Homo sapiens: one gene and its partners. The protein of the gene in region 1 purifies or fractionates together with the protein of each later gene. This does not show direct contact. Each region holds a gene or a part of one and is shown on either strand. Other genes may lie near its edges. The genes, in order: TREM1, ECPAS, TUBGCP2, SPCS2, ATP12A, ASB9 and TTK.

Evidence for each region.
Region 2: the proteins of TREM1 (region 1) and ECPAS purify together in Homo sapiens (affinity purification with mass spectrometry; one large-scale study listed by BioGRID and IntAct). This does not show direct contact.
Region 3: the proteins of TREM1 (region 1) and TUBGCP2 purify together in Homo sapiens (affinity purification with mass spectrometry; one large-scale study listed by BioGRID and IntAct). This does not show direct contact.
Region 4: the proteins of TREM1 (region 1) and SPCS2 purify together in Homo sapiens (affinity purification with mass spectrometry; one large-scale study listed by BioGRID and IntAct). This does not show direct contact.
Region 5: the proteins of TREM1 (region 1) and ATP12A purify together in Homo sapiens (affinity purification with mass spectrometry; one large-scale study listed by BioGRID and IntAct). This does not show direct contact.
Region 6: the proteins of TREM1 (region 1) and ASB9 purify together in Homo sapiens (affinity purification with mass spectrometry; one large-scale study listed by BioGRID and IntAct). This does not show direct contact.
Region 7: the proteins of TREM1 (region 1) and TTK purify together in Homo sapiens (affinity purification with mass spectrometry; one large-scale study listed by BioGRID and IntAct). This does not show direct contact.

What each region holds. Positions count from the first base shown.
Region 1 is NC_000006.12:41,276,188-41,280,325, reverse strand, and holds part of TREM1 (triggering receptor expressed on myeloid cells 1 isoform 1 precursor), read left to right. Parts: exon of another isoform or gene 1-789; intron 790-4,095; coding exon 4,096-4,138.
Region 2 is NC_000009.12:111,369,072-111,373,209, forward strand, and holds part of ECPAS (proteasome adapter and scaffold protein ECM29), read right to left. Parts: coding exon 4,099-4,138; intron 3,550-4,098; coding exon 3,358-3,549; intron 2,759-3,357; coding exon 2,550-2,758; intron 1,695-2,549; coding exon 1,651-1,694; intron 1,557-1,650; coding exon 1,364-1,556; intron 103-1,363; coding exon 1-102. UniProt on the Homo sapiens protein: Adapter/scaffolding protein that binds to the 26S proteasome, motor proteins and other compartment specific proteins. May couple the proteasome to different compartments including endosome, endoplasmic reticulum and centrosome.
Region 3 is NC_000010.11:133,294,902-133,299,039, forward strand, and holds part of TUBGCP2 (gamma-tubulin complex component 2), read right to left. Parts: intron 3,211-4,138; coding exon 3,051-3,210; intron 2,504-3,050; coding exon of another isoform or gene 2,420-2,503; intron 1-2,419. UniProt on the Homo sapiens protein: Component of the gamma-tubulin ring complex (gTuRC) which mediates microtubule nucleation.
Region 4 is NC_000011.10:74,966,157-74,970,294, forward strand, and holds part of SPCS2 (signal peptidase complex subunit 2), read left to right. Parts: intron 1-3,408; coding exon 3,409-3,543; intron 3,544-4,138. UniProt on the Homo sapiens protein: Component of the signal peptidase complex (SPC) which catalyzes the cleavage of N-terminal signal sequences from nascent proteins as they are translocated into the lumen of the endoplasmic reticulum.
Region 5 is NC_000013.11:24,707,549-24,711,686, forward strand, and holds part of ATP12A (potassium-transporting ATPase alpha chain 2), read left to right. Parts: intron 1-1,815; coding exon 1,816-1,939; intron 1,940-2,134; coding exon 2,135-2,280; intron 2,281-2,911; coding exon 2,912-3,045; intron 3,046-3,243; coding exon 3,244-3,345; intron 3,346-3,769; coding exon 3,770-3,861; intron 3,862-3,945; coding exon 3,946-3,974; 3' UTR 3,975-4,138. UniProt on the Homo sapiens protein: The catalytic subunit of a H(+)/K(+) ATPase and/or Na(+)/K(+) ATPase pump which transports K(+) ions in exchange for Na(+) and/or H(+) ions across the apical membrane of epithelial cells.
Region 6 is NC_000023.11:15,263,449-15,267,586, forward strand, and holds part of ASB9 (ankyrin repeat and SOCS box protein 9), read right to left. Parts: intron 1-4,138. UniProt on the Homo sapiens protein: Substrate-recognition component of a cullin-5-RING E3 ubiquitin-protein ligase complex (ECS complex, also named CRL5 complex), which mediates the ubiquitination and subsequent proteasomal degradation of target proteins.
Region 7 is NC_000006.12:80,024,950-80,029,087, forward strand, and holds part of TTK (dual specificity protein kinase TTK), read left to right. Parts: intron 1-1,428; coding exon 1,429-1,565; intron 1,566-2,935; coding exon 2,936-3,062; intron 3,063-4,138.

The DNA of each region.
Region 1 (4,138 bases):
CTAATGTGTAGGCAAACTTAAGAACCACTAACTTAGCAATTTCACACCTCTTTACAGTTATTAAATGTTGATTTATATTAGAATGTGTTTATCATTAAATACTGAATTATCAGGATGGAAATACTTTTCCACATCACCACTAGTCTAACATGTCTTTTTTCTCATATTCTCTTCTAGTCTTTATTCATGTTTATACATATTTTAATATGGCAGTAAGTCTAATTATACATGTTTTTATTCTTTTCCTTGCTGAAATTATTCTTTGATGCTGCTACCTAAATTTCATAAATATAATTTCAATGAGTGCATATTTTTCTATCAATTGGGAAAGCCATAACTTACATAACCATTGGCCTGTTCTTAGACATTGATATAGTGTTGATAACTCTGAGATAAACATATTCTTGCAGATATATTTTTCTTCTTTTAAATAATTAACTCGAAATTTCCATGAGATAATTTAAACACTGATATCATTTTGTATACAAATAGCATCTACCAATGGTCTTCCAAAAGATTGGAAACAATTTGCAGTGTGATCCATTAAGCATAAATAAAGCAGTGTCATGGCAGGCTTACAGACACGGATTTAGTCTTTTAAATCATTAAATAGTGTGAGTTAAATCACATTCCTGCTAAAACAAATGTGAACTGGTGCCTGCTCTAATTTCTCTATGAGTGTAGACTCCACCTCCATATGGGTAGTGGCAGTGCCTTTTTCCCCATTATGTTGTTTGGGGAACAAAGTGCTCATTAAACTTCTGTGGAATAAATCAAACGAATGATCTACTAAGAGTCAATTTTTTTTTTTCCTCTACTTTCATTTTGCAATACATAAGTTAAGAGAACATAATCTTTGCCCATATTCTTACTTTTACCGGAAGGAGGGCCTTAAGTGTAAGCTGTCCAGGTTCTGGGCCTTTTAATCAAAGTATTGGAGAAGACGCACAAAGTAACAAAGGAATGAAGCAGTGAAAGCAGGAATTTATTTAAGCGAGAAAGCGCTCCCCAGGGTAGAAGTGGCCCCACGCAAGTGGCTCAAGGGCCAAGTTACAAAGTTTTCTGGGTTTTAAGTACTCCACGTGAAGTTCCTCCCAGTTACCCCTTATCTGGATGAAGCATTTGGTTTGTGGCTAACTAAAGGCTAAGGTGAATTGGCGCCCTCTGTGGGTAAAGGGATGGTCGTCTCTGCTTGGCTCAGGGCCAATCTAAGACACTCTCCCTTTCCAGCTGAGACGTGGTGGAAGGGGGAGGGCTGTAGGGAGAGTAGCCTTTGATTCTTTGCTGCTGGGGCATGGGGAGATGGGGTTTTTCCTTTTGTTTTAGCTTTAGAAAGTTTATGTTAATTGGCCTTAGGTTCCCTGACCCCAGCCCCAGGAGTTTTCCTTTTGATCCAGCTATGGGAAGTCAGCACGAATCCATCCTAGATTTCTTGCCCCTAGACCTTGGTGTTGCTCCATGATTCAGCATGAATTGGTCTTACGTTCCTGCCTCCAGACCCTATTCTCCTGCCTTGCTGCTAGAGACTGCATCTCTCTTTTATCTGTTAACTTTATCTATCATCTAATATGAACTATCCTTTCAGCCAAAATCCAGTCTGGAAAGTGGAATCCACACTAGCTGTTTGAAAAGAAGAAGCTTTTTTTCTTTTTCTTTTCTTTTTTTTTTTGAGACACGGTCTCACTCTGTCAATCAGGCTGGAGTGGAGTGGCACGATCATGGCTCACTGTAGCCTCAACCTCCTCCCACCTTTGCCTCCCAAGTAGCTGGGACCACAGGTGCATACCACCAGGACAGCTAATACTTTTTATTATTTTTGTAGAGATGGGGGTCTCCCTGTGTTGCCCAGGCTGATCTCGAATTCTTGGGATCAAGTGATCCTCCCACCTCGGCCTCCCAAAGTGCTGGGATTACAAGTGTGAGCCACCACATCCAGCCATGAAACGAAGGAATTTAATGCAGGGAATTGTTTGCCCAGGTGATGGAAGAGCTGAGACGCTATCCTGGGGATGGAGAGGCACTGCAGAGGTAGCCACTATCACCCTATCTCTAGGTAGTTTCCCCAGAAGCAAGCTGTAAAGTCTTGTTAAAATGTTTTAGGACTAGGTGTTGTGGCTCACACATATAATCCCAGCACTTTGGCAGGCTGAGGTGGGAGAATCACTTGAGCCCAGGAATTTGAGATTAGCTTGGGCAACATAGCAAGACTCCGTCTTTACAAAAAAATAATAAAAAAATTAGCAGGGCATGGTGGCATGCACCCATGGTCCCAGCTACTCGGGAGGCTGAGGCAGGAGGATCACTTGAGCCTGGGAGATCAAGGCTTCAGTGAGCTGTGATCAAGCCACTGTACTCCAGCCTGGGCAACAGAGCAAGATCCTGCTCTCTTTCTCTCTAAAAAAAAAAAAAAAAAAAAAAGACAAAAAGAAAAATGTTTTAGGAAGTGATTTCTGGCAAAGCCATTGAGGAAGTGGGACCAGGAAGGGAAGGAAGCCAAGCAAGCGTGTCATAACCAAGGGGTATCTCACAGGATAACTCTGGCTCAGTCTTGTTAAGGAGCTCTGGGGACTCCTGGGTCACATTTGGAGTTGTCCCTATAAGGGGCAGTAACTGAGCAAGGGCAGCTCTAACCAAGGCCAAGCACATGAATTCCTGGCCCTTCAGGGGGTTGGTAGCTTGTGTGCAGCCTCGAAAAAAATGCAGATGGTGGCCTGTTGGGAGTGGACATGCCCCAGGAGTTCAGCATAGGAAAATGGTAAAGCACTCAGAGTGGATAATGCAGAGCACTGGCAGGAGAGACTTGGGGAGGAGGTGCAGTGAGCAGAGCCCGGAAGCCAGGACATTCAGGTTGCAGCACTGGAATCGGGGCAGATGCTGAGGATGCTGAGTGCGCCACCATGTGAGGGGTGAGAGAGATGCTGGCTCCCTGCCCCTTGCTGCCTGTCTCTCTGCCCCATCCCTGCCCCCGTCTCTGCCCCCTGTCCCCCACCAGTTGCTGAACTCGACCAGTCAGGCTTGGGAATGTAGTCCCCTGTGCTACAAGTCAGGGCCCTTGAATGGGGGTGGATTTCAGGCAAATAGGCAGTTTTCTGCTTTCTAGCTCCTTTACGCCGTTTCCCTCTTTGCTAGTTTGTGCATGTGGTTTTAAGTTTTGTATAGGTGGGTGTGTTGATTTTAAATCAATTGCTTTGCTTTATTCCTTAATGTGTTTGATTCTATTTCCTGGTGACTTTTCTTGGATTGTTTTTTTTTTATTTTATTTAAATGTTTAGTCCGGGGGAAGATTTATTCTGCTACATGCTATAAACTGTAGAAAAGCCTACACCGTTACCATGTTGCTGTCCAGATACTGCAAGACTATTTACTAAATGATCCTCCTGCCTCTCCAAGTAGCTGGGACCATGGGTGCATGCTACCACGTCCGGCTTATCCACTGGACCTCTGATTTCCTTAGACATTATGTTCCTGCATAGCACTGGCTCTGCATCTGGCCTTTGTGTTCCATTGCCATCTGTCTGTCCCTGTGTCTTACCATGCCACATCCTTGTGCTCTCATCTGCTTGCATGTCTGCTGATGGAACTGGCCAAGTGCCCTCACTCCTTTGCATCTTTTTATTATGATACCTATTGATGTTTACCCAGAAACCTTAGAATCATTTCGCCAAAATCTATAAAATTCATGATGAGATTTTCACTACGGGTGGATTCTTCTCGGTTTATAGGTGAGGAAACCGAGCTAAAGAGGTGAGATGACCATCCCAGTAGGCAGGGTACGGTACTGAGAATAGAGAGCGGGTTTCCTGGCCAGAGTCCTCTCTCCCTACCACATCACAGGGAGGAGGATGGGCTGATCAGCCCGACTGTCTCCCTCCAGTGCCTCTCCTGGACAGGGACCTATACTCTCCACTGAATTGTTTCTAATCAGTAGTTTTTGGCAATGAGACAGACTGAAAAGCACAGGGTCAGGCAGTGCGGGAAAGGTGGAGCAAGGATCTAAGCAGAGGAGAGTGGGACATGAAGGCATTTTCTAGAGGGAACATGTGCGTGTGGGAGAGACTTTGCCAGCAGTAGCGTTCAGCCTCTTGTCTCCCGCAGGGTTCCGGTGTTCAACATTGTCATTCTCCTGGCTGGTGGATTC
Region 2 (4,138 bases), on another chromosome or scaffold:
GCTTTCAAAGGCACCCAGCAGATATTCCAGCTGGAGCTCCTTTTCCTTTTCATTCTCCTCTTCATTTTTGGTTGTCCGGACCCCACTGCTTTCAAGTGAGTTCTAGGATATATCAAAGAAAAGAAAATGTAATATTTTCTTCTTCAAAGTTACAGGTATACTATTAAAGCTATCAGGGTACCAACCAAGGCAGGAGATATTAACCAAGAGTTAAATGATAAATTCTCTACCATAAGTTTCCCTATTTACAACAAGAATTTATAACCAGAATACTGTATCTCTAATAAATTTAGGCAATACTTTACAGGCATCTGTAAACAAAAGCTAAAAAATACTGCATATGTAGTCTTTTGAGCATAACATGAAAAGACTTGCATTAGAATCAGATTTTAAAGATGGAAGAAACTCAGTAATGATCTAAATCCAAACTCTTTCTTGATAGAGAAACAGAGGCTAAGAGAAGCAACTGGTCCAGCTTGCTAGTGATGTAATCAACTTAAAACACAAGTCTCCCAAATCCATATGCTATCACTATGTTTGTAATGGAAATTATTTAAATAGCCTTATTACTGAAAGAAAACAACTGCAATTTAGGAGCAATAAGAAATAAGAATGTTACTTAAAATATTTCATGTTTCACAAATAAACAGGGAAACCACACCCTTTTTTTTGGGGGGGGGACCAGTGCCCAACTTTTAAAAATGAGTATTCCATTTTCCACATGAAACTTGAGTCTTTTTTTGACCCAAATCCTCCACTATATGGCAGAGGCAATTCACATGGCACACTGAGCTTCTTGCCTTTACTCTAGGATGGCTGGGGTGGCTTAGCTTATTAGCCAAGGCAAAGCTTATTATGACATAAACTGTTCATTCACTACCAAATCCACTCTCCCCTTCTCCCATGGAGGGCAAATGGACACCCAGAATGAAGACTCAGTCTGCTGCCAGGTGTGGCTAAGTACTGACCAACAGGATGGCTATAAGTCAAAGTGCCATCTAGCGGTGCCCAGGAACTCTCCTCAAGAGAGACATGGCATGCCCACTGTATCCTTCATCCTTGCTTCATCTCCTCTGCATTCCTGCCTAGAACACAAACACACTGTGGACCATGAGGATGATGACCACACCCTAGAAATGGCAGAGTTCAGAGCTGTAAAGAGACGGAATACCTGAACACTTTGTGATGCTCCCAACGCTTTGTGAGAAACATAGCATTGACTATCTTGTTTAAGGCCGTATTTTGGAATTTCTCTGCTACTTGCAGCTAAACTAATCCTAATAATCAGGACATAGGGGAAAACAATTTTTTAACTTTTTCTTTTTAAAGTATAAACCAGAACTGAGGATACAGGTGGTATTACCTTCTTGATGAGAGGTATGACAATGTTAGAGAACTCCTGGAATCTGTCCTCTTTGGTGGCCTTCAAGATATCAGCTGCACAGCTGATTGCTACAATCTTGTATTTGACATTCTCTTTGCTACATTCCTTCAGAACAGCTTGAAGAATTTCATTTGTGCTGGGTTGATTGGGCACAGACTTTTCCAGCTCTGCACTACAGGGTCCATACAAAAGCATCAGAAGTTAATAAAGGCTGCAGTTTTCGGGTCCAGTTTAAGAAATGGCATCTTCATTGAAAGAACATTTACCTGCAAGCTGTCACCACACAGGCAATGGCTTTCAATAGCTCCTCCTAAGGGGTTGAAAGATGAGGAAATACTATTAAGCCCAAACATGTCATTTACACTGTCTAAACCATGATTACAATTACCTTAGGAATTTTTGATAACTATGACAACAAAAATTAACAACAGTCACCTTATCTTTAATGCATAATTTTAAGCACATCCACCAAGTTTTACTCCAAACCATGGATGTAGGATAATTATCTTCACCTCCATTTCATAGAAGCCTAAAGAACTGATTCGACCCAGGTCTCACAGAAAACAGTGTCAACCACAGAATTGGAATGATGTCTGACTCCCAGTCCGGTACTACTTCATTCCTGCATGGGCCACTATTGACCTTTACAACATAAAGATCATTAGGTTACCACAATCTCATGTTCCCCACTGAGTGTTCACTGTTAAGAATCCTACTAAAGCTCTTGTGTAAAAAAATAACTGTTACTAATTCATAGGTCCCAGAGATGGGCATCTTCAGCCCCAGGTTTAGAGGCAGGCTACCTTGCTACTCTATTTCACATATGCCCAATCCTGATCTTTCTATGCCCAATCCTGATCTGTTCATGAGGTCAACAGGTACAAAATGCTGACAAGTTGGTTTAAGACGTAACTTGGAAGGCTGAATATGGAAAATGTATCTATCTCCAGCATTACTGTCCATTATGCAAGGCCACACGGGTTGCAGTTTGAGAGGAAATACCACAGTTAATCAGGCAAGGTTTACCCAAAGCTTCCACTGTCTAGGAAATCTAGTTCACAAAAATAATCCATTGGAAAAGTTACACAAAACCAGATCGTTACTATTATGCAAAATGAAAGATGAAGTCAGAATCCCTTTAACTGGGTATGAATGGTTCCTTTACCTTTCCTGCCCACGTTCTTCCAGCCAGGCCTTGCAGCAATGCGGTCAGTATCATTCCGAGATATGGAGGTACTAGAGAGCTAGTCTGTTTTGCAATTGATGCCATGGCAATTGCACCCTGGGCTTTCATTTTCCAGGACTGAGACTGCAAAGCCTTCTGGGTAATAGTAATTAACTCCTGCAGGTATAATCGAATGCCACCAAAGGATCCTAGGAAAGCAAAATTAAAACAACTTTTAAGTGACAAGAAAAATTAACTGATTTTTCTAAACCTGAAAAAAAGTCAGTGACCAACAGTCTAAAAGCAGTGACTCTCAACTGTTAAAACACACCACTCTCTCAAAGGGAGAGAAAGTGTGTTGGTGTTGTGACTTATTCTCACAATAGTAGAACTTTACGAACTTGGGTGCCCACAGGAACGTATCACACAAATGGGCATCATCAATTAATATGCGACAAGGTGAAAAACACATTTAGAAAACTACTCTAAAATACTCTAAGGCCACATAAAATCACACTCTTAATTAAAAATGTAAAGCTCTCCTTGCTCACAGGGTTTATATTCTCTCATGTGGGCAGTGATGAATGAGTAAAGACAAAAATCCTGAGTGCCAACCTTGAGAACTCAGCAATTTGGATGGGTTCAAAACTAAATGGGATGAGCAATTTGGATGGGTTTAAAACTAAATGGGATGCATATTAAGGTCCTGGGAAAGTAACTTCAGAGGAGTTTATGAATAACGAATGCAAGTAAAAAATTCTAGCTGTGATTCCTAAGAAGCAGGTTTAACTCAGGCCACACTACTAACCAGGTACGTTTTCCTGCCACACTTCGGTCCATAAATTACATTCTTCTTTTTCGGATTTCTCCTCATCAGCAATTTCATGCATGCCTAAAAATGCCAGAGGCAGGACTTCTTTTGCATGATTCTTTAATACATCAGGGCTGTATCGTCCAATAGCATGAATAGTCAAAGCACAAGAGGTCTTGTAGATAGGTTCTGAAAAGGAGAAACCAAAATCTTTACGATATTTATTGTTTTTAAGGGTAACTGATCTAAACAGGCTATTGTTCAACTCATATAATAGCAAAACAAACAGGTAAAATCAATTAGAAATGTTTCTAGCAGGCTGGGTTGTGGTGGCTTACACCTGTAATCCCAGCACTTTGAGAGGCCAAGGTGAGCAGATAGCTTGAGCTCGGGAGTTTAAGACCAGCCTGGGCAACATGGCGAAACCCCACCTATACAAAAAATACAAAAATTAACCAGGCGTGGTGGCACGTGCCTGTAGTTCCAGCTACTCAGGAGGCTGAGACACAAGAATCGCTTGAGCCCAGGAGGCTGAGGTTGCAGTGAGCTGAGATAGCACCACTGCACTCCAACCTCAGCGACAAAGCCAGACACCATCTCAAAAAAAAAGAAAAGAAAAGAAACAAATGTTTCTAGCAAATCACATAAAATCATGGAGGGTAAGACCTAATTTGTACTGTTTTACTGGGCTGTTAACATCTAAATTTAAAATGACATAAAATAGAAAAAGAAAGGTACCTTCTTTCTCCATATACCACCCATTGAGCTTCTGCAGGAG
Region 3 (4,138 bases), on another chromosome or scaffold:
TAAAACCGAGACCCCAATGTCTACCATCCCTAAAGGAGTGGGTGTGGCTTGGCGTTTTGGGAACAGCGAGTGCATCTTCCAGGAACTGCCTCTGACTCTGCATCACTTACTTTCCACCATGTTGGCCTCATTCATCCACAGCCACGAAGCCTCGGCCAATGCCCTTGTGGGGAGAAGCCTCACGGTGGGGTGGAGGTGCCGTGGGGTGGGGGTTAGTGTGGATCCAGCCGCCTGGCTGTGGAGGGACCTCAAGGGTTGCTTTAGGCCGGGTATGGTGGCTCACACCTGTAATCCCATCACTTTAGGAGGCCAAGGTGGACAGATCGCTTGACTCCAGGAGTTCAAGACCAGCCTGGGCAACACGGCGAATCCCCGTCTCTACTGAAAATACAGAAATTAGCTGCGTGTGATGGTGCACACCTGCAGTCCCAGCTACTCGGGAGGCTGAGGTGGGAGAATCACCTGAGCTTGGGAGGTCGAGGCTGCAGTGAGCTGAGATTGTGCCACTGCACTCCAGCCTAGGCAACGAAGTGAGACCCTGTCTCAAGCAAAAAAAGAGTCAGTTGCTTCACCTCCCCAATATTCAACATCCTCAGTGTCATCTCAACACCTGCGATGTCACCTGCAAATCACCACGTCCGAACGACCACCGAACACGTGGCTCCTCCGTGCCGGTGTGGGGAAAAGGCAGGACGCGGGCAGATAACACCTTCGCATGCTGCGCGGGAGCGACCAGAGGGAGGGGCACTGCGGAGGCGGCGCTGGCCAGGTGGATGCCCACACGGTGAGGAGAGCATGGCGGGAACGTGGAGTGCTGGCAGCTGCCTCGTGCTCACAAGGTCCTGATGCTTTCCAAGGCACCTGTCCTCATCACACCACTCCACAGCTGTTTTCCAGAGGACGCAGGCCCGAGGTCACACAAGGTCCCGTGGTGTGGCACTGGTCAAATCGTGGGGTGAGGAGCTAGACAGGCCCCGGCATGAACACCACAGTGAGCTCCATTCTCAAGTCTGCACAGGTGGCACAAGGGGACAGGGACAGTGCGGACAAAGGGAGGCAAGGCAGCCTCAATACCGGAGGCACCCCTGGGACCTGTGGTATGTGGCCGTGGGAGGGAGGTGGGGCGAGGCCGCCCCTTTCCTGGGATGCTGAGTGTGCTGAGGGCACCTGCACCCTGACCTGAGAGCTGGCTGCAGGGTTCACAGCCAAGTCTCACACACTTGCTGCCAATCACCGCCACGCTCAGAGCTGCCCACGGCGCCGCAGCGTTACTGGACAGTGCGTTCCTCTTTTGTACAACCCCTTCCCTGAATGGGGAAACATGGGGGGAAAGCCTGAACACCCCCTCAGTGCCTCCTGCTCCAAAAAGCCGGCTCCACTGCTGGGATCCCAGGCAGCAGGGCCCCGCGCTTCCTTCTCCGAAGTCTGCCTGGGTACCATCAGGAGCTCTCAGGTGCCCACCACTCCCCGGCTGCCTGCTGAGTACCCGCTAAGGGAGCAGCTCTCTCTCCCTAAGTCTTCACAGTTGGGTTTTCACAGTTGGATTATTACTGAAAACACTGCACAAAGCAGACTGCTTTGTTTTTTTTTTTTTGAAACAGGGTCTCGCTCTGTTGCCCAGGCTGGAGTGCAGTGGCACGATCACAGCTCACTGCAGCCTCGACCTCTCAGGCTCAAGTGATCCTCCCACCTCAGCCTCCTGAGTAGCTGGGACTACAGGTGCACGCTACCACACTCGGCTAATTTTCACATTTTTTGTAGAGACTAGTCTCGTCCTGTCGCCCAGGCTGGTCTCGAATTCCTGGGCTCAAGGAATCCACGCACCTCACCTCCCTAAGTGCTGGGATTACAGGTGTGAGCCACCATGCCTGGCCGAAGTAGACTGTTTTCCATACTTTTCATTAACTTACAGCATGGTTTTCTATACTTCTCATAACTTACAGCAGGGTTTTTCTATACTTTTCATTAACTTACAGCAGGGTTCTGTTTGCTTGGGGATGAGGAAAACAGGTGGATTTCACGTCACCGTTCTCCAGGGTTTCCGGCAAAGGCAAGGGTTGGCCCCTTGGTGCCCACATTGCAGAGCCGTGAGTAGTGGGGAAGCAGACCACGCTCCATGCTGCCTCTTGAGTTTGGACTAACGGGGATGGGGCAAGATAAGCAGGTATGCTCTGTCCTTAGTTTGTGAAATCTCATTTTTCAATCTAAAAATGTACTTGACTAGGCGTGGTGGCTCATGCCTGTAATCCCAGCACTTTGTGAGGCCAAGGTGGGCAGATCACCAGAGGTCAGGAGTTCGAGACCAGTCTGGCCAACACGGCAAAACCCCGTCTCTACTAAAAATATAAAAATTAGCCAGGCGTGGTGGCGCCTGCAGTCCCAGCTACTTGGGAGGCTGAGGCAGGAGAATCGCTTCAACCTGGGAGGTGGAGGTTGCAGTGTGCCGAGATCACGCCACTGCACTTCAGCCTGGGCGACAGAGCGAGATTCCATCTCAAAAGAACTAAAAATAAATAAAAATAAAAATGTACCCATGAATTGTGACAGATGAACACATCCCAGGTCCCCAATAACAACGTCTTGAAATGACTGTGTGGTCTCACCCGCATCTTGTTTACACGAACACTACTTAAGAGGCCTCTGAGAATACTGCTGTAACAGAATCTATGGGAGTCATGAATCGCTGTTCAGAAATAAGTGCTGCACACAATTCTGATGCCTGCAGGTCTGCACCAGGGCACCAGGATGCCGGCTGGGGAGGGGCCTGCTGCAGGCTGCCCCACAGCTCTGGCAGAAGGGACAGGAGAAGAACCCTCAAGGACCCGGGTGAGCCGTTCTCTGCTGCCATCCTGGGATGGGAATATGGAGGCGGCAGCCAGTCAGCATTGAGCCTCACAACCTGAGGAAAGGCAGGCCCGGGGGAGGGCTGGGCCTGCAAAGTGTCCTGCCCAGAGGCCAGAAATAAACACATGACATACCTATCGGCAGAGCCCGGAAATCAACGCATCACGTACCTATCGGCAGAGCCCGGAAATCAACGCATCACGTACCTATCGGCAAAGCGGTGTCTGTGCTGATGCCAGCACCAATCAGGAAATCCCCGATCAGGGCAGGTCTCTCATACACCCATGCTGGGAAGATGGGGAGGTGCTGGCCTGAATTTTTTTTGTTCTGCTTGTCTCGAAGCATCTTTCTTTTAAGTTCCAGAGACTAGCAAGGACATTTTAAAAAACAAAACCAGAAAGATACACTTTAGCGCAAACACTCAACTAAAGACATGCATAGAAGCTAGCATCTACGGCAAAGATGATTACTCAATTCAACACCCACAAAGGGTCAACCACATAGAAATGAAATGCGCCTCGACATCCCTGCCTGCCACAACGTGAGGGGCTGGGGACAACAGGGCAGATGGGGAGCCCTAGCCCCTCTTCTCAGGAGTGCAGGTCCTGCAAGGGCCCCCCTGGGAAAACATGAGCACCAGCAGTGGGAACCACGGGAGAGGGTGCACCTAGGCACAGAGCCGCTGTTTCAAAGGAGGGCGCCCTGTGAACAAGCTGAATTGCTTCTTTCTGGCAGTGACTAGGTCTGAACACCACTTGATGGGTGAAGACAGGCTTCAGCAACAGACATGCATCCTTACCCTGCCGGAGAAGGGCCCCAGCGTGACAGGATGGCTCCTGACATGTGGTCAGAGAGCCTGCCCTCCTGCGCCAGTGGCCGCCAGAGGCTGATGGGGTCGGCCTGGGCTGGCCCAGCTTTCGGAAGCACTGACTCCCACTCAGGGCTGGTCAGGGACACGGGCAGATGCAAACTGTCTCTGCACGTGGCAGTAAGACCCAGTCTTCTGCCACGGCTGAGGGAGACGTGGACAGAGGCCTAGCACCATGTCCAGCACAGAACGTGCCCAGCAAGAACCGGCTGGGTCCTTGGGAGCCGCTGCACTCAACACGCACCCAGGAGGCTAGGACGCCTCAGGGACACAGCTCCAAAGGGAGTTTAAAGGTCACAAAGGCAGGAACGTGGCAGCTCTAATGAGAGAGACTGGGAGATGACTTACGTCAAAAGACCAGGGTAGGGCATAAAATCAAAACCAAGAGCAAGTAGCAAATACAGAAGGAATAATAAAAATTACTGT
Region 4 (4,138 bases), on another chromosome or scaffold:
GTAGAGGTTATTGTCCTAATATGAGCACTTAATAGCAAAACACATAGTAATAGTGAACCCAGCTCTTCTCATTTCTAGCCCAGAACTTTTCCCGTTAGACGTGGCTGCTTCAAGCCACTCATTCTAGGATATTAGGAAAGGATCTGATTTTGGAGACTCAGATCTGTATTAAGTTTACTTGAAGCTGAGGAGCTGAACTGGAAAGTACTGAGCATGAGATACAAGTGTGGCTTGTATTACAGTGGAATTAAGAACTTATTCTGGAGCTAGAGAATATGGGTTTGAAATCCAAGGTATCTGTGATCTTGTGCTAATGAAAATTTACTTATTTTTGAGATGATTTGAATACCACTCATTTATAAATATGGGTAGCATTCAGAATTATCATAAAGATTAAATGAGAGATTTTATATTGTATTTGATACATAATCATTTCCTTTCCCCTCTTTTTTATGATAAATGTAAGATCATGGTCGTTGCCTACCCAGCGTGATTTTTTTTCTCAAGAAGTTGAATATAAAGAACTTAATTATACTTCACTATTAAAATAGGTAATTTTGGTTGGTAGTTTACTTTTTTAAACAATGTTACCACTACCTAAATTTTGTTTTGTTTTCTTTTTTTTGAGACAGGGTCTTACCGTGTCACCCAGGCTGAAGTACAGTGGTGTGATCATGACTCACTGCAGCGTCAGCCTCCTGGCTCGAGCAATTCTCCCACCTCAACCTCCTGAGTAGACGGGCACATGCCACCATGTCTGCCTAATTTTTAAATTTTTTACAGAGACAAGGTCCTACTACGTTGCCTAGGCTGGTCTCAAAACTCCTGGGCCCAAGCAATCCTCCCAAAGTGCTGGGATTACAGGCATAAGCCACTGTGCCCAGCCAACCTGAAATATGTTTTAAAACTTCATGTTGGGGATTTATCTTCAGAGGCAGTTAGCAAACCTCTGATAAAGCAGATCCTAGTCAAAAATTGTATTATCCAGATTGCCCCACATTTCCCCCAGAAGTGGCACCAGGTGATCCTTGACTCCTTTCAGTAATCAGATTAATCATCCCAGTATGAATTTTTCACTATTAAGGCAGTTCAGAAGAATAATATTCCATAGGTTCTAGAGACAGTTCCCAGGGGAATTCCAAAGAGATTTGAAAATGATAGCAACATTATTACAAATATCTGGCCTCCCAAGAGAACTACCTTGATGGTAATTCATTTGTTTGGTTATATTTGTTTAATAAAACAAGGTCTTATTTTTGTCATGTCAGTTTTATTTATAATGTAGGGACTACCATTATAAATGTCTTCTGTTGCTGGGCATCGTGGCTCATGCCTGTAATCCCAACACTTTGAGAGGCCAAGGCGGGCGAATCACTTGAGCCCAAGAGTTCAAGGCCAGCCTGAGCAACTTGGAGAAATCTGTCACTACTAAAAATACAAAAATTAGCTGGGCATGGTGGCGCATGCCTGTAGTCCCAGATAGTTGGGAGGCTGAGGCACAAGAATCACTTGAATCCAGGGGGCGGAAGTCACAGTGAGCCGAGATCTGCTACTGCACTCCAGCCTGGGCGATAGAGCAAGACTCTGTCTCAAAATAAATAAATTAATTAGATAAAATAAAAAATAAATTAGCTGGGTGTAGTGGCACACACCTATAATCCCAGCTACTGAGGAAGCTGAGATGGGAGGATTGCTTGAGCCTGGGATGTTGAGGCTGCAGTGAGCTGAGATCATGCCACTGTACTCTAGCCTGGGTGACAGAGTGAGACCCTGTCTCAAAAAAAAAAGTCTTCTGTATCCTAGACTGCATATATCCTTCATCTCTAAATCTCATGATAATTCTAAAACATCAGTATTATCCCAATTTTAAAGGTAAGGATACTAAGACTTGGGGAAGGAAGTTATTTGTTACAATCATACTGATTAAAGGCCAAGATTTAAATCTAGGATTATCTCTACTCTAAAGTCCATATACTTTGTACTATATTTTCCTGCCTTTCCTGTTCATGAAATTTATCTATTTTTTAACTCTTCTTTAATGGAATGCTTCATGAATTTGCCTGTCATCCTTGTGCTAGGGCCATGCTAACCTCTGTATCGTTCTAATTTTAGTATATGTGCTGCCGAAGCGAGCACTGTTCATGAAATTTATTTTTATTTTATTTATTTTATTTTTATTTTTTGATACAGGGTCTCACTCTGTTGCCCAGGCTGGAGTGCAGTGGCACGATCTTGCCTCACTATAGCCTCTGCCTCCCAGGTTCAAGTGATTCTCCTGCCTCAGCCACACAAGTAGCTGGGATTACGGGCCTGCACCACTACATCCAGCTAATTTTTTTTTGGTTTTTGTGGGTTTTTTTTGTTTTTTTTTTTTTTTGAGACAGAGTCTTGCTGTGTCACACAGGCTGGAGCACAGTGGCACGATCTCGGCTCACTGCAACCCTGCAACCTCTGCTTCCTGGGTTCAAGCCATTCTCATGCCTCAGCCTCCTGAGTAGCAGGACTACAGGCATGTACCACCATGCCCAGCTAATTTTTGTATTTTTGGTAGAGACATGGGGTTTCACCATGTTGGCCAGGCTCATCTCGAACTCCTGACCTCAAGTGATCTGCCCACCTCAGCCTCCCAAAGTGCTGGGATTACAGGTGTGAGCCACCACGCCTAGCCTTAATTTTTGTATTTTTAGTAGAAATGGGGTCTCCCATTGTTCCTTGTTGGCCAGGCTGGTTTCAAACTCCAGGTCTCAAGCAATCCACCTGCCTCGGCCTCCCAGAGTGCTGGTATTAAAGGTGTGAGCCATCGTGCCCAGCCTTGTTTATGAAATTTAAATGGCACAGTATACACAAAGCTCTTATGCCAGTTTTTGGCAAACTATAAGTGCTTATTAACTATGGTACTTAATACTGTCAAAAACAATATAATAATAAGTCTATATGCATATAGGAAGTAATCGTAGTACTATTTGACATACTCTCTTATAGTAAACTATTTGGGTCACTTTTCTTCTCTTAATAACCCTTAAAATCAGTTGAACATGGTCAAGTCCACTGGGACTATTCGTTGTTTTTTATAAAGAAATAAGCACTATTATAACAAAGTCTTGACAAACTAGGTATCTTATTATACATGTTGTCTTTGAACATAAAGATGAGAGCTAGTTTATGCTCTGTATCTTTTTCTTTTCTTCCTTTCTGAGGTGTTTGCAGAATTAACCAGAGAGAGCCTTGCTTCTCTTGGTATATAAACATAAGGATGAAAATGAAATAGCTAAATTTTCAGTGTTTTGGCAGCAAGACAAAGCTGTCTTCTTTAGGACTATCATTATGAAAGTTTTTATATCTGTTGCTTGTCAATTTGTGTTACTTCTCTTTTATGTTTGGGTATTTTCCCCTTAACTTTATTTGAACCTATTTTGTGATGATGGGGATTCTGACCATTTATACCTCATATAAGGAGAAGAGCATCTTTCTCGTGGCCCACAGGAAAGATCCTACAGGAATGGATCCTGATGATATTTGGCAGCTGTCCTCCAGTCTTAAAAGGTATGACTATCCTCACAGATTTTTAAATCCTGGTGTTGGATTTGCCCTGGCATGTTGTCATTATCAACAGAAGACTTATTATGTGCCTACTCTATGTGGATCATAGGGCTAGTCATATAAAATGAAGAAAGGAGTATGGATGATCTAGAAGGTTTGTCCTAGCCCTATAGTTCTGAGATTGCGTTATCACAGAAATGCTCTGAGGATAAACTGTGGGAGAAGGTACTTTTTCCTGTGGCCAGTTAACAGAGACGATTAAGCATACAAAAGTATAAAGGCCAAAGATGTGAGATCAGTTATCTTTGAAGAATTCCATTAGCTTCTGTGTCTTCTATGATCCTGTCTTCTCTCCACGAATACAATCAAGAATATCTGGAGCAGTGCACTGGGCAACTCAAAAAAAGCACAATCTAGAGTCTGTTTCTGACCAGTGTCAGGTATAACTTTGTGCAGCTGACACACATGTGTTTTGTAGGTACCAAGAACTAGGTTCATGTTCCAATTCAGTTTCTTTCTAGCTGTATAACTTTGGGTAAATCATATAAATTATCTGAGGTTTAGTGGGGTCAAAAATGATGCCTAGAGTTTCTGGGAA
Region 5 (4,138 bases), on another chromosome or scaffold:
GATGGGGCCTGTAGCTCTGCATTTCTCACAGGTTCTCAGGTGGTGCCCATTCTACCAGTCCACATGCCACACCTCAAAGCAAGGGACCAGAGGCATCTGCCAAATGTTTGGAAATTAAAAACACTCTATAGTGAGCTTTTTTTTCTTGAGACAGAGTTTCACTCCCATCACCTAGGCTAGAGTGCAGTGGTGCTATCTTGCCTCACTGCAACCTCCGCCTCCCAGGCTCAAGTGATTCTTCCACCTCAGCCTCCCAAGTAGTTGGGACTACAGGCTTGTGCCACCACACCTGGCTAATTTTTGTATTTTTAGTAGAGATGGGGTTTCCTGGCCTCAAGTGATCCACCTGCCTCGGCCTCCCAAAGTGCTGGGATTACAGGCATGAGTCACTGCACCTGAGCTATAGCAAGCTTTTCAAGACATGAGTCTTCATCCTCAAAAAAAAAAAAGAAATGCCATTGGTCAGTTTCAGCCTATGGGCTTCCCTTTTCTTTTGGGAAGATGAAGCTGTCACTCAGATTAATCACCCAAATAACCACTGGGGGCCCAGTGACTAAAGTGATAATCTCACAGCCACCTCTTGTTAAGTAAGAGAGTCTGACATGGAAGACCTTTACCTAAACACAGTAAGAAGTAGCAGTTATGAAGACTTTATAAAGCCTTGCCCTACAGTAATGTCACCTAAACCTTCCCCTTTTCCAGTATCCATTTAAAGAAAGCCCCGTCTAAGCTGCCCATGTGGCTGTGGCTTACGTGGGCAAGCAGGGAAAGCAACAGACAGCAAGCTGAATTCTTAGCAGGAAACTGGCCCTTCGAAGTGCCCCCTTCCCCTTCAAATTGCCCCCTTCCCCTCTCTTGTTTTCTACAACACCCAGGTAATCCCTAATTCCTAGAGAGACTGGAGATGTCTTTCCCTTTGAGGGGTATTGAGGTCCCCAAAGTTGATGGATCATTTTCCAAGCCCTTCACATTTGCCTGCTTTGCTCTGCTGCAGTGCTTCTCCAGGCCTGGTGCGGGCATCACCTGGGAACTTGTTAGACATGCACACTCTGGGCACTGGTGGACACCTGTAGCCTAGCTACTCAGGAGGCCAATGCAGGAGGATTACTTCAGCTCAGGAGTTTGAGTCCAGCCTGGTCAACACAGAGAGACCTAGTCTCTTAAAAAATAAAAATTAAGAACAAATAAAATAAAAATCTTATTCCAGATAACTGGGCTAGGAATGGAAATAGGTTGTACACCCATTGTCTTTTAAAAAAGAGAAAGAAAGAAAGAGAAAGAGAGAAAGAAAGAGAGAAAGAGAGAGAGGGAAAGAGAGAAAGAGAAAGAGAGAGAAAGAGAAAGAAAGAAAGGAAAGAAAGAAAGAAAGAAAGAAAGAAAGAAAGAAAGAAAGAAAGAAAGAAAGAAAGAAAGAAGGAAAGAGAAAGAGAAATGAATGCAAATTCTCTGGCCCCAGCCCAGTCCTCCTGAATTGGGAAGTCTGGAGGTGGGGCGCAATGATCTGTCTCTTAGCAGGTCCTCCCACCTGGAGGGAGAGGACGGCACAAGAAATTCTCCCTGTAGGGGAAGAGTGTTTTATAACCAGCATCCTTCAGAACTGCCAGCACAGGGTGATAAAAAGCAGCTGATTTCTAAAGGCACTATTCTTAAATTTCCATACAGACAACACGCCCTCTACTGCCTATAGCCTGGATGGGCCAGCTCCATGCCCCCCACCCCATCCAGCCAGTGCCCCACCCACCCCAGCCCCCCTCCCCTACTGTGGGTAGAGCAGAACATCCTGGGGTTAGACCTCACCAGCCTCTTCCCCTCTAGATCCCCTCCATTGCCTTGGCGTACGAGAAAGCTGAAAGTGACATCATGAACAGGAAGCCTCGCCACAAGAATAAGGACAGGCTGGTGAACCAGCCGCTCGCTGTGTACTCATACCTGCACATTGGTACGATGAGGGCGCGTCTTCCCCATCACACGAGGGCCTGCCCCGAGAATTCACTGGAGTGGGGGGCACAGCCAGAAAGTGTGGTTTTCCTGTGGGGCCTGGGTTGGGGAGGGAGGGGGAACCGAGAGTAGACAGGATGAGGCAGTTTCCTGAGGCCATCATAGAACCTGTGTCCTATCTCTCTTGTTCTTTCAGGCCTCATGCAAGCCCTGGGAGCTTTCCTTGTGTATTTCACCGTCTATGCACAAGAGGGCTTTCTGCCCCGCACTCTCATTAACCTGCGGGTAGAATGGGAGAAGGACTACGTGAATGACTTGAAAGACAGCTATGGGCAGGAATGGGTGAGTGGCGGGAGCCCTGCTGCAGAGTCCACCTGATTCTCTCCATGCTCATTGCCCTGCGCAGAATTACATAGAACCTCCATGTCCCTGAACAGCCTGGGAAAGCTTCAATTAATAGGGCTCAGGGCCCCCTTGCTGACACGTGTTTGGCCTTTGCCAGGTCTCATGGCACAGCCTCCTGTCTTGGGCTAGATGACAAGAGGTCCCTTTTTTTACCTTAGCTTTGCCATTGGTATAGAAGAGTGACCAGCCCAGCCACACCCACAGTGCGGCCAAATAAATTTACATCTTTCAGGCCGGGTGCAGTGGCTAATGCCTATAATCCCAGCACTTTGGGAGGCTGAGGAGGGAGAATCACTTGAGCCCAGGAGTTTGAGACCAGCCTGGCCAACACAGTGAGACCCTGCCTGTGTTAGAAATAATAGTAATGATAATTTTTTAAAAAATTAACATTTTTCTCTACTCAGCTGGTTCAAGAAAGAAAAATGTTTCTTTCCAAACACTAGAAGGTGGTCCATTCTCAGTCCGGGTGAGGTGTGGAAAGAACATGAAGCTTTAGAGAACTGCATTGGAATTTCCTAGAAGTTTTCCTTTAGGCCTCAAGGTCTCTTCCTTCTCTGCCCATTAACAGACAAGGTACCAGAGGGAATACCTAGAATGGACGGGCTACACGGCTTTCTTTGTTGGCATCCTAGTCCAGCAAATAGCAGATCTGATCATCAGGAAAACCCGGAGGAATTCCATCTTCCAGCAGGGTCTCTTCAGGTACTGCCTGTGCCCGGCCTCCTGGGGCAGCCCTGGGCCTGCCGTGCAAGGATGATGATGATTTGTTTTTCACAAGACAGAGTTCTGGCCACACTTGTAACCCCAGAGGCATTGATTTTTCTGGTGGCATGGTCTGCTGGGTGTATGATCATGAAGCCACAAGAATCCCAAGTCTGTCTGCTTTTGTGTGTCTTGCAGAAATAAAGTCATCTGGGTGGGGATCACCTCACAGATCATCATTGGTCTGATCCTCTCCTATGGCCTCGGAAGTGTCACAGCCTTGAGTTTCACCATGCTTAGGTGAGTTCACCCTCAACAGCATGGAGGAAAGAGCCAGCCTCTGCTTTGAGCTGTCGCAGCCTAAATAAACCTGAGGATTCCCAGGGTTCTTCCCCAAGTCTTTCAAAAGACGTCAAACTGATCCCATGCTCTGTGAGCCCAAAGCTTTGATCTGCATTTTCCAGAAGTGGAAATGGGTTTTCTAGACCTCACCAACCGGCCTTCATCCTCATCCAACAGGTTGCTTCAAAGGCAGACATTGCTTCTAGCAGTCACAGTGCAGGTTAAACAAGGAGCTTTCCACCTTTATTTTGTGGGACCTCGTGGATTTGTCGTTCTTTGCAGTAAAGCAAGACAAATGAACGAGAAGCCCCATTCCCATTGGGCAGGGTTGGGCTATCCCTGTGGATGAGTCAGGGTTCACTTTCCATCCCTTTGCTTCCAGGGCTCAGTACTGGTTTGTGGCTGTGCCGCACGCCATCCTGATCTGGGTGTATGATGAGGTGCGGAAGCTCTTCATCAGGCTCTACCCTGGAAGTGAGTAGCCTATGATTTTAGAGGCTCTGTTTACCCACTTCAACAGACTCTCCATTTCTGATGTACTTTTTTCTACCTCTACAGGCTGGTGGGATAAGAACATGTATTATTAAGACCACCTCCCTTCCTATGTCTCTCAGCAGCACGTTGGGGCACACTTGTTCATCTTCTGACCGTTTGCTGGGCTATTCCCCTGCAGTGCAGACATCGTCAAAATTCAGACAAGAGGAAATTTTCATGCAGAAAGCTGTATGCAGGATGCTCACTGATGTTTTGC
Region 6 (4,138 bases), on another chromosome or scaffold:
AACAGAAAGGCCCACTGAGGCAACTCTTGGGCAAGTCAGGCCTGTCCACTGCAGTTCTTTCTCCAGTTCCATCATCCAGCCTCTCCTCTCCTCTTTCTTCTCTCTCTTCTCTCTCTTCTCTTTCCTGTCTCCCTCTCTCTTCTCTCTCTCTCTCTCTCTCTCAATATAAAGCTGCCTTCTCCAAAGGGCCCTCACATTATCACCCATTCTGTCTCAACAGGCAGGTTTTCCCCCAGAAAACTCACCCCTCCTGAGGTGCCCCAATATCTAAAAATTCACCATAAGACAATAAAATTGTTTTCTTTCAATACCTGTTCTAGCTTGTCTTCTGTTTAAATGTGAATACTCTCTACAGGGTGGGCTCAATTTTGCAAGGATAGAAATATCTCTACAGTTGTCAGTCTTCAGGCAAAACCCCAAAAGATAGACACTAACACTGGGAACAGTGATTACCTGCTTGGTGGAATTATGGGTGGTTAGTTTATCCTTCAATGTATTTTCCTAAGTTTCTATGAGTAGGTATAAATTAGCCTCCTAGGGATACCATAACGAAACACCACAAACTGGGTGGCTTAAAACAACAGAAATTTGTTGTCGCCGAGTCCTAGAGGCTAGCAGTTGGCTAGAAGTCTGAAATCAAGGTGTGGACAGGGCCATACTCTATCCAAAGGCTCTAGGGAAAAATCCTTCCTTGCCTCTTCTAGCTTCTGGCAGTGGCCATCAGTCCTTGGTGTTCCTTGGTTTCTAGATGTGTCACTCCTATCTCTGCCTCTGTTGTCACATAGCATTCTCCATGTGTCTCCTTCTCCTTTTCTTATAGGGACTCTGGTCATGTTGGATTAAGGTCCATCCTACCCTACTTACGACCTCACCTGAACTAATCTTAACTAATAAGGTCACATTCTGAGGCACGGGGGTTAAGAACTTAACCATATATATTTTCAGGGTACACAATTTAACTCGTAACAAGCTACTTTCAGGAAAAAATTAAGACATTCTTTCCCTGCTCCTTGGACAGGAGAGTCTAACATGAAACAAATCTCTATAAAGAGTTGGTTGCCCATTTTTATAGCCTTTCCTCCCTCCCTACCCCCAGGGAAGTGGGCAGAAAAACGCCTGCAGGTGGAGGTGGGAGCAGCAAGATGATCCACACCTGGGCCCTATTTTCCCCTCTAACTTGGCCTTGTGCAAAGGGACAAGCTTCACCTGAGCTGAGTTTCTTGGCACAGCTATTTGAAAACAGCATTCTGAGTGTTCCCCATTCCACACTTCACCAAGGTTAAGACCTCAGAAGCATAAACAAAAGCAACCAACTACAATTGAGGTTTTACCCAAGGGGCAGGACTGATGCAAAGCAGACGGAGAATGACTCCACTTGAGTAGGGAGAGGTGGAAAGTCTAGGAGGGCTTCATGGGGGCAATGGCTCAGCTGGGTGTAGAAGGTGAGTAGCAATTTGCCAGTCAGATTCACAACAGGAGGTAAGAAACCAGAAGTATCCAGGCACCTACCCTTGTGACTTCTACTTCTTTGAAAACTTCTCTTCCCTTAGCACCTGTGTAATTACAACATCCAGAATCTCTTTCTGCTTCTCTGTCCAACTTACTGGTCCTACTTCATCAACTGGAGGCCTGTCCCAGGGTTCCATCCTTGGTTGACTCTCAGCTCTTAGCCATTGGACAATTTCTCCCTTCCCTAGGTTTCAACCACAGCCCCTCTGTAGGACATTCTGAGGTATCTGGCTTCTAACCTGTGATCGTTCCTAAGTCTCAGTCCCATGTCATCATACTGTGCACTGGGCATCATTGTTAGCACTATCATGTCCAAAACAGAACTCTGTATCCTCCCCTCCTCATCCTGCATCCAAGGCAACTTCCTTTCCAACTTCCCTCTTATCTAGCTTATCTGACATTACTTTGGGCTTGAGAACCTTATAATTTTGCCTGCCTTCTGTTAGTTCCAACATTTAATCAAGCAACATACGCTGATTTATCTTTCCTTTGAAATCATCGCCCTTTCTCTGTCATTTCCAAAGTTCGATCCAAATGTAAGTTTCATGGTTGGATTAGTGCAGTAGTTTTCAAAGTATGGTCCCTGACCAGTACCATCCATTTCACCTGGGAGTTTGTTATGAATGCAGATTCCTAGGCCCCCACCCCAGGCCTACGACTTCATCAAAAGCTGCATCATCTGCATTTTTTTTTTTTGAGACAGAGTCTCGCTCTGTTGCCCAGGCTGGAGTACAGTGGCATGATCTCAGCTCACTGCAACCTCCGCCCTCCCAAGTTCAAGCAATTCTCCTGCCTCGGCCTCCTAAGTAGCTGGGACTACAGGCATGTGCCAACACACCCAGCTAATTTTTTTTTTTTTTTTTGAGACAGAGTTTCACTCTTGTTGCCCAGGTTGGAGTGCAGTGGTGTGATCTCGGCTCACCACAACCTCTGCCTCCCGGGTTCAAGCGACTTTCCTGCCTCAGCCTCCCGGGTAGCTGGGATTACAGGCATGCACCACCATGCCCGGCTAATTTTGTATTTTTAGTAAAGACTGGGTTTCTCCATGTTGGTCAGGCTGGTCTGGAACTCCCAACCTCAGGTGATCCGCCTGCCTCGGCCTCCCAAAGTGCTGGGATTACAGGTGTGAGGCACTGCACCCAGTCAAATGTTTGTATTTTTAGTAGAGATGGGGTTTCACCATGTTGGATAGGCTGGTCTGGAACTCCTGACCTCAAGTGATCCGCCCACCTCAGCCTCCCAAAGTGCTGGGATTACAGGCGTGAGCCACCGTGCCCAGCCAGAAGCTGCATTATCTGTATTTCAATAAGCTCTCCAGGTGATGTAGAGGCACATGAGAATTTGAGAACCACTGGATGAATGCAACCATCTCCCACGATTCCAACACAATCTATCCCAGCTGTGGCTACCATGTTAATTGACCTACAGCCTTATTACCAGGTCTCTGTTCTAGAACCACCAATGGCTCTCAATTTCCTGCCTCATGAAGCCTGACCTCCTCCACTTAGCTCTTCAAGCTTTATCTGCCACTCCATCTCTTCAAACTTGTTCTCACTAGACTCCCTAAGACATTCACATTTTGCACTCTAGCTGTAAAAACTTGTTGACTTTACAAGCACCATGCCTTTGCGTATAACACCTGCCCACTCCCACTCACCCACCCTGACCCCACCAGGGTTGTATTAGGAACTTTAGAAATCCTGAACAGTTGGCTCACGCCTGTAATCCCAGCACTTTGGGAGGCCAAGGTGGGTGGATCACGAGGTCAGGAGATTGAGACCATCCTGGCTAACATGGTGAAACCCCGTCTCTACTAAAAATACAAAAAATTAGCCGGGCGTGGTGGCGGGCGCCTGTAGTCCCAGCTACTCAGGAGGCTGAGGCAGGAGAATGGCGTGAACCCGGGAGGCGGAGCTTGCAGTGAGCCAAGATTGTGCCACTGCACTCCAGCCTGGGCGACAGAGCGAGACTCCATCTCAAAAAAAAAAAAAAAAAAGAAAAAGAAACCCTAACAGTGAAAAGTGGCTGGTGCCTCTCTCCCATGTGGAAACAAAAATAAATACAATACTTAGCTATAAAATAACCGTGCAGAAGTCAACCAAATTACCGATTCTTTCCCATAATGATTGGTTTGCTGTTTTAAAAATATATTTATCGGCCGGGCACAGTGGCTCACACCTGTAATCCTAGCACTTTGGGAGGCCGAGGCGGGCAGACTTCCCTGAGCTCAGGAGTTGGAGACCAGCCTGGGGCAACATGGTGAAACCCCGTCTCTACTAAAATACAAAAAAAAAACACCCCAAAAAATTAGCCAGGCGTGTGCCTGTAGTCCCACCTAGTCCCTGCCTCTCCCTCCTGAGGCAGAATTGCTTGAACCCAGGAGGCCGAGGTTGCAGTGAGCCGAGATGGTGCCACTGCACTCCAGCCTGGTAACAGAGCGAGACTCCATCTAAAAAAAAAATATATATATATATATAATTATATATATAATTCCTTGTAAAAAGTGGCCGGGCGTGGTGGCTCACGCCTGTAATCCCAGCACTTTGGGAGGCCAAGGCGGGCGGATCACGAGGTCAGGAGATTGAGACCATCCTGGCTAACATGGTGAAACCCCGTCTCTACTAAAAAT
Region 7 (4,138 bases), about 39 Mb from region 1:
CATCATTCCTTGAAGATACAAGGCTCTGGATCAACCAGATCCCAACAACTGTCATTGTTTTTGTTGGCTTCTACACCCCTGTGTATTACCAGTCCTACAGCTGGCCTTCATTTTTCTAACTTCTTCGTGTCTCATGACCATTTCCTTAATTTTACTTTAGCCACCTACTCCTTATATCCTCAATTCTGACCTCCAAAATCGCAGATGCTAACATTCCACTCTATGATCGTGATCTTTTTCATTTTCCTTGTTCATTAATCTTATTACAGCAGTTCCTCAGTAACATCTTTACCACTAATCTTAAAATATGTGCGTGCTTGTACGTGAGCACAGACACACGAAGTCTTAAATGAGAGGGAAAATTTATCCTGGAAAAAAAATTTCTTGGCCAAGACTGAAATGTAGAAAGTAGGATAGATTTAGTCATTGTAATTCTCAAGTGCGTAATGAGGACCAGTGTGTTGAAATTATAATAGATAAACCAATATAATCCAAATTATCTGCAAATATTTTCTAATAACTAAAGCTGTCCTGAAATTGAAGTGAACCTCTGTAGACTAGTGAGTGCTTAGTTACTAAAAGTATTCAAGCAAAACTTGGTTCTCTATTTAATTGAGATGTGCTACAGCAGGGGTTAGCAAACTTTATGTAAAGGGTTAGCAGGCTTTCCAGGCTAGATGGGCTCTGTTGTAGCTTTTCACCTCTGCCATTAGAGCATGAAAATAAAAGCCATAGACAATATGTAAACAAATTGGCATAGCCATATTCTAATAAAACTTTGTTTACAAAAATAGGCAGGCAGCAGGCCACATTCAGCCTGAGCCTGTAGGCTGTAATTTGCTGATTTCTGCTGCAGCGGATGTTCCTTCATCATTGTTTGGGGTTTGTATAGGATGAATCCTATAGGTTCTTTTTTTTTTTTTTTTCCCAACAATGCTTTTGGAAAAAGAATTTCTACAGGTTCTGTCTCTTCTTATGGAGGACACAAGATAGGCATTTGTCATTCCACATTTTGCTAAGTAATTAGTATTTGTCTACATTTGAGGAGAAGGGAATAGAGTTTTATTGATTAAAGAAAGGCTGATTTTCAGAAACACAGGATACTATTTTAGATGATAAGAATTTAATACTTGTTACAATAGCTCTGATGGAAGAGAATGTTAAATTCTGTTTTAAGTAATTTTGTGTGCCTTCCCTGTACTTGCCATCAGTTTGAGCAGAATGCACTAGGCTTAAGAATTTGGAGTAAAATAACTACACTAAAAAAATTATTGAAAGTCTAAAATGTATATATATGCCTATCTCTTTTAGTATGCCTTTGTATATCATATGTTATTATTTTATTTTAAAAGTTATAATATTTGTAAAAACTAGTGAACAGGCAACTAATTTAAAAACTAAATCATGGTGTTCTTTATTTTGTTTTAGCAGAAACATACCACTTTTGAGCAACCTGTCTTTTCAGTTTCAAAACAGTCACCACCAATATCAACATCTAAATGGTTTGACCCAAAATCTATTTGTAAGACACCAAGCAGCAATACCTTGGATGATTACATGAGCTGGTAATTACTTTGGCCCCTTGCTTGATTGGCAGGGTGGTATGATAGAATTAACATGGGCTTCTGGGCCAAATAAATCTGGGATTAAATCCTGCTCTTTTACTTTAAAGACTTTCCATCTTCATATTATTTTTTCAGCATCAGTGTTTTCATCTATAAAATGGAAAGGGGGAAGTGGTTGCAATAATGCATATTTTTAAGGATTGTTGTGCATGTAGTTTCTGTCATATCGTAATCTGTACCTACAACCTATAAATATTCTAAGGATGTAAAACGTCTTGATAATCATGTATTGCCATACAGATATCTCTCTATTAAGAGAGAGATTTTAAAGGTTAGCATTCTTAGAGCAGATAAAGAGTAGATGAATTTTTTCACATAAGTGGTGTTAATTGGAAAGTGATAGCTTCTGGAAGAGATTGGTTTTTACAGTTCATGTAGTTCTGGAGGTATTCAAAGGTGTAGTATTTGAGTGAATAGGAATGATGGATAAGTGAAGAAGTTCGATGATGAGTGTGCTGATAGGGAACACAAGGGATACTACAAAAGAAAATGAATGACATTTCAGAGAAAGGAAATAAAGGGATGCGATACATTATAACCATCAACCGGTGGCTATATCTTTAATGTCTTAGGGGATAGCTTAAATCCGTGTTGTCTTTTGCGTTTCATTTTCATAATGTAATCCTTGATCTTAATTAGAACTGGTCTTAAAGATTTTATAACCCAGCCTCTTACCTACTTAATATAGTTTTACTATATATTGCCTCATTTTATTATATGTAGAATATTCTAAAGAATGATTGCTAACTAAAATAGCGATAATAGATATTTCTTGTGATACTAGGTTAATTATTGTTAACAAATATTTGTGGAGCTCTTTTGTGCCAAGCATTGTTCTAGGTGTTGAGGATATATTAATAGCAAAAAGGCAAACAAAGCACAAATGTATACTGGACAGATTTAAGCTCAAAGGCCAAACTCCTGTGATGTAATTGGCTTTCTGATATTTCTAGCAAGCCATTATAGAACATTATTGTTTAAAAAAAAACTCAAAATCTATGGCCGGCCACAAGCTGATGTTTGCTAAATTCATATAAAATAACCCTAACCACTTTGTATTTTAAATGCCATCTTTTCAAACAAAGATTTCTTGTCTGCATACAAATATTTACTTTCAGAAAGAATTCCCCAAAATTAAATATCCGGTGGTGGCATATCTGGAATAAGTGTCAGCTATATCATGAAAACTAACTTGGGTTCTGTTTGATGTAACACTTTTAAGTTTATATCAGTCTAAAATACATGAAACTGAATCAGACTTATTTGTTAAATTGTAATGTTTTAAATAAAAATATATATATATTTCCTAGTTTTAGAACTCCAGTTGTAAAGAATGACTTTCCACCTGCTTGTCAGTTGTCAACACCTTATGGCCAACCTGCCTGTTTCCAGCAGCAACAGCATCAAATACTTGCCACTCCACTTCAAAATTTACAGGTTCGATAAGCTTTATATATGATGGTATATGTTAAGATACAGTCCGTTTTACAGCTTTTATTTTTATAGCATCTAGTTATCAAGAAAGGTCTTAAGAACTTGGCCATTCTTATTTCCACTAGACAAAACTTTTCTGATATTCTAATAAGAGTGTGCCTTGTGGCTTTGAGAGGTTGGTTATTGAAGAAGCTTACGAAGCTACTCTTAATAACTAGGCCAAAGGATCCAGTTTGAATAGCTGGATAAAATTTCTCTTATGAATCAAGGTTACCTTTTATTTTTTATTTTTATTTATTTATTTATTTATTTATTTATTTATTTTTTGAGACAGAGTCTCGCTCTATTGCCCAAGCTGGAGTGCAGTGGCGCGATCTCGGGTGACTACAACCTCTGCTTCCCAGGTTCAAGCGATTCTCGTGCCTTAGCCTCCCGAGTAGCTGAGATTACAGGCACGCACCACCACACCTGGCTAATTTTTGTATTTTTACTAGAGACAGGGTTTCACCATGTTGCTCAGGCTGGTCTCAAACTCCTGGCCTCAAACCATCCGCCCGCCTCAGCCCCCCAAAGTTCTGGGGTTACAGGCATGAGCCACTGCGCCTGGCCAGCGTTACTTTTTGTTGTGTTTTGTCAGCTGCTAGTGAGCAGCTTCATTTTGTTTGTTAGTATACAATTCATTTGGAAATGTAAATTTTCAAAAATATCAGAATAGCAATATGAGGTACTGCTAGAATGTATTATACTAATAACTAAACTAAGAGGAAAGATTTTTTGCTGATGAGGCAAAAGTTGGTTTCTAGTAACTGTCCTAGAGGCAGCTTAATACTGGTAGAAAACATGGGCCTTGGAGACACTGGGCATGAATCTTAGCCTCACTACTTACAGTCTGTGTGATCTTTTGCAAGTTACCTAAATTTTCGGTGCCCATTTCATTATCTATAAAATTAGTAAAGCTAACTACCTCCTAGGATGGTTGTGAAGATTAAATTAGTTAATATAGACGTAACTCCTAATACAGAGCATGACACTTAGTAAATCAGAAATGTTAGTAGCAATTGTTATTTAAATAAAACAAT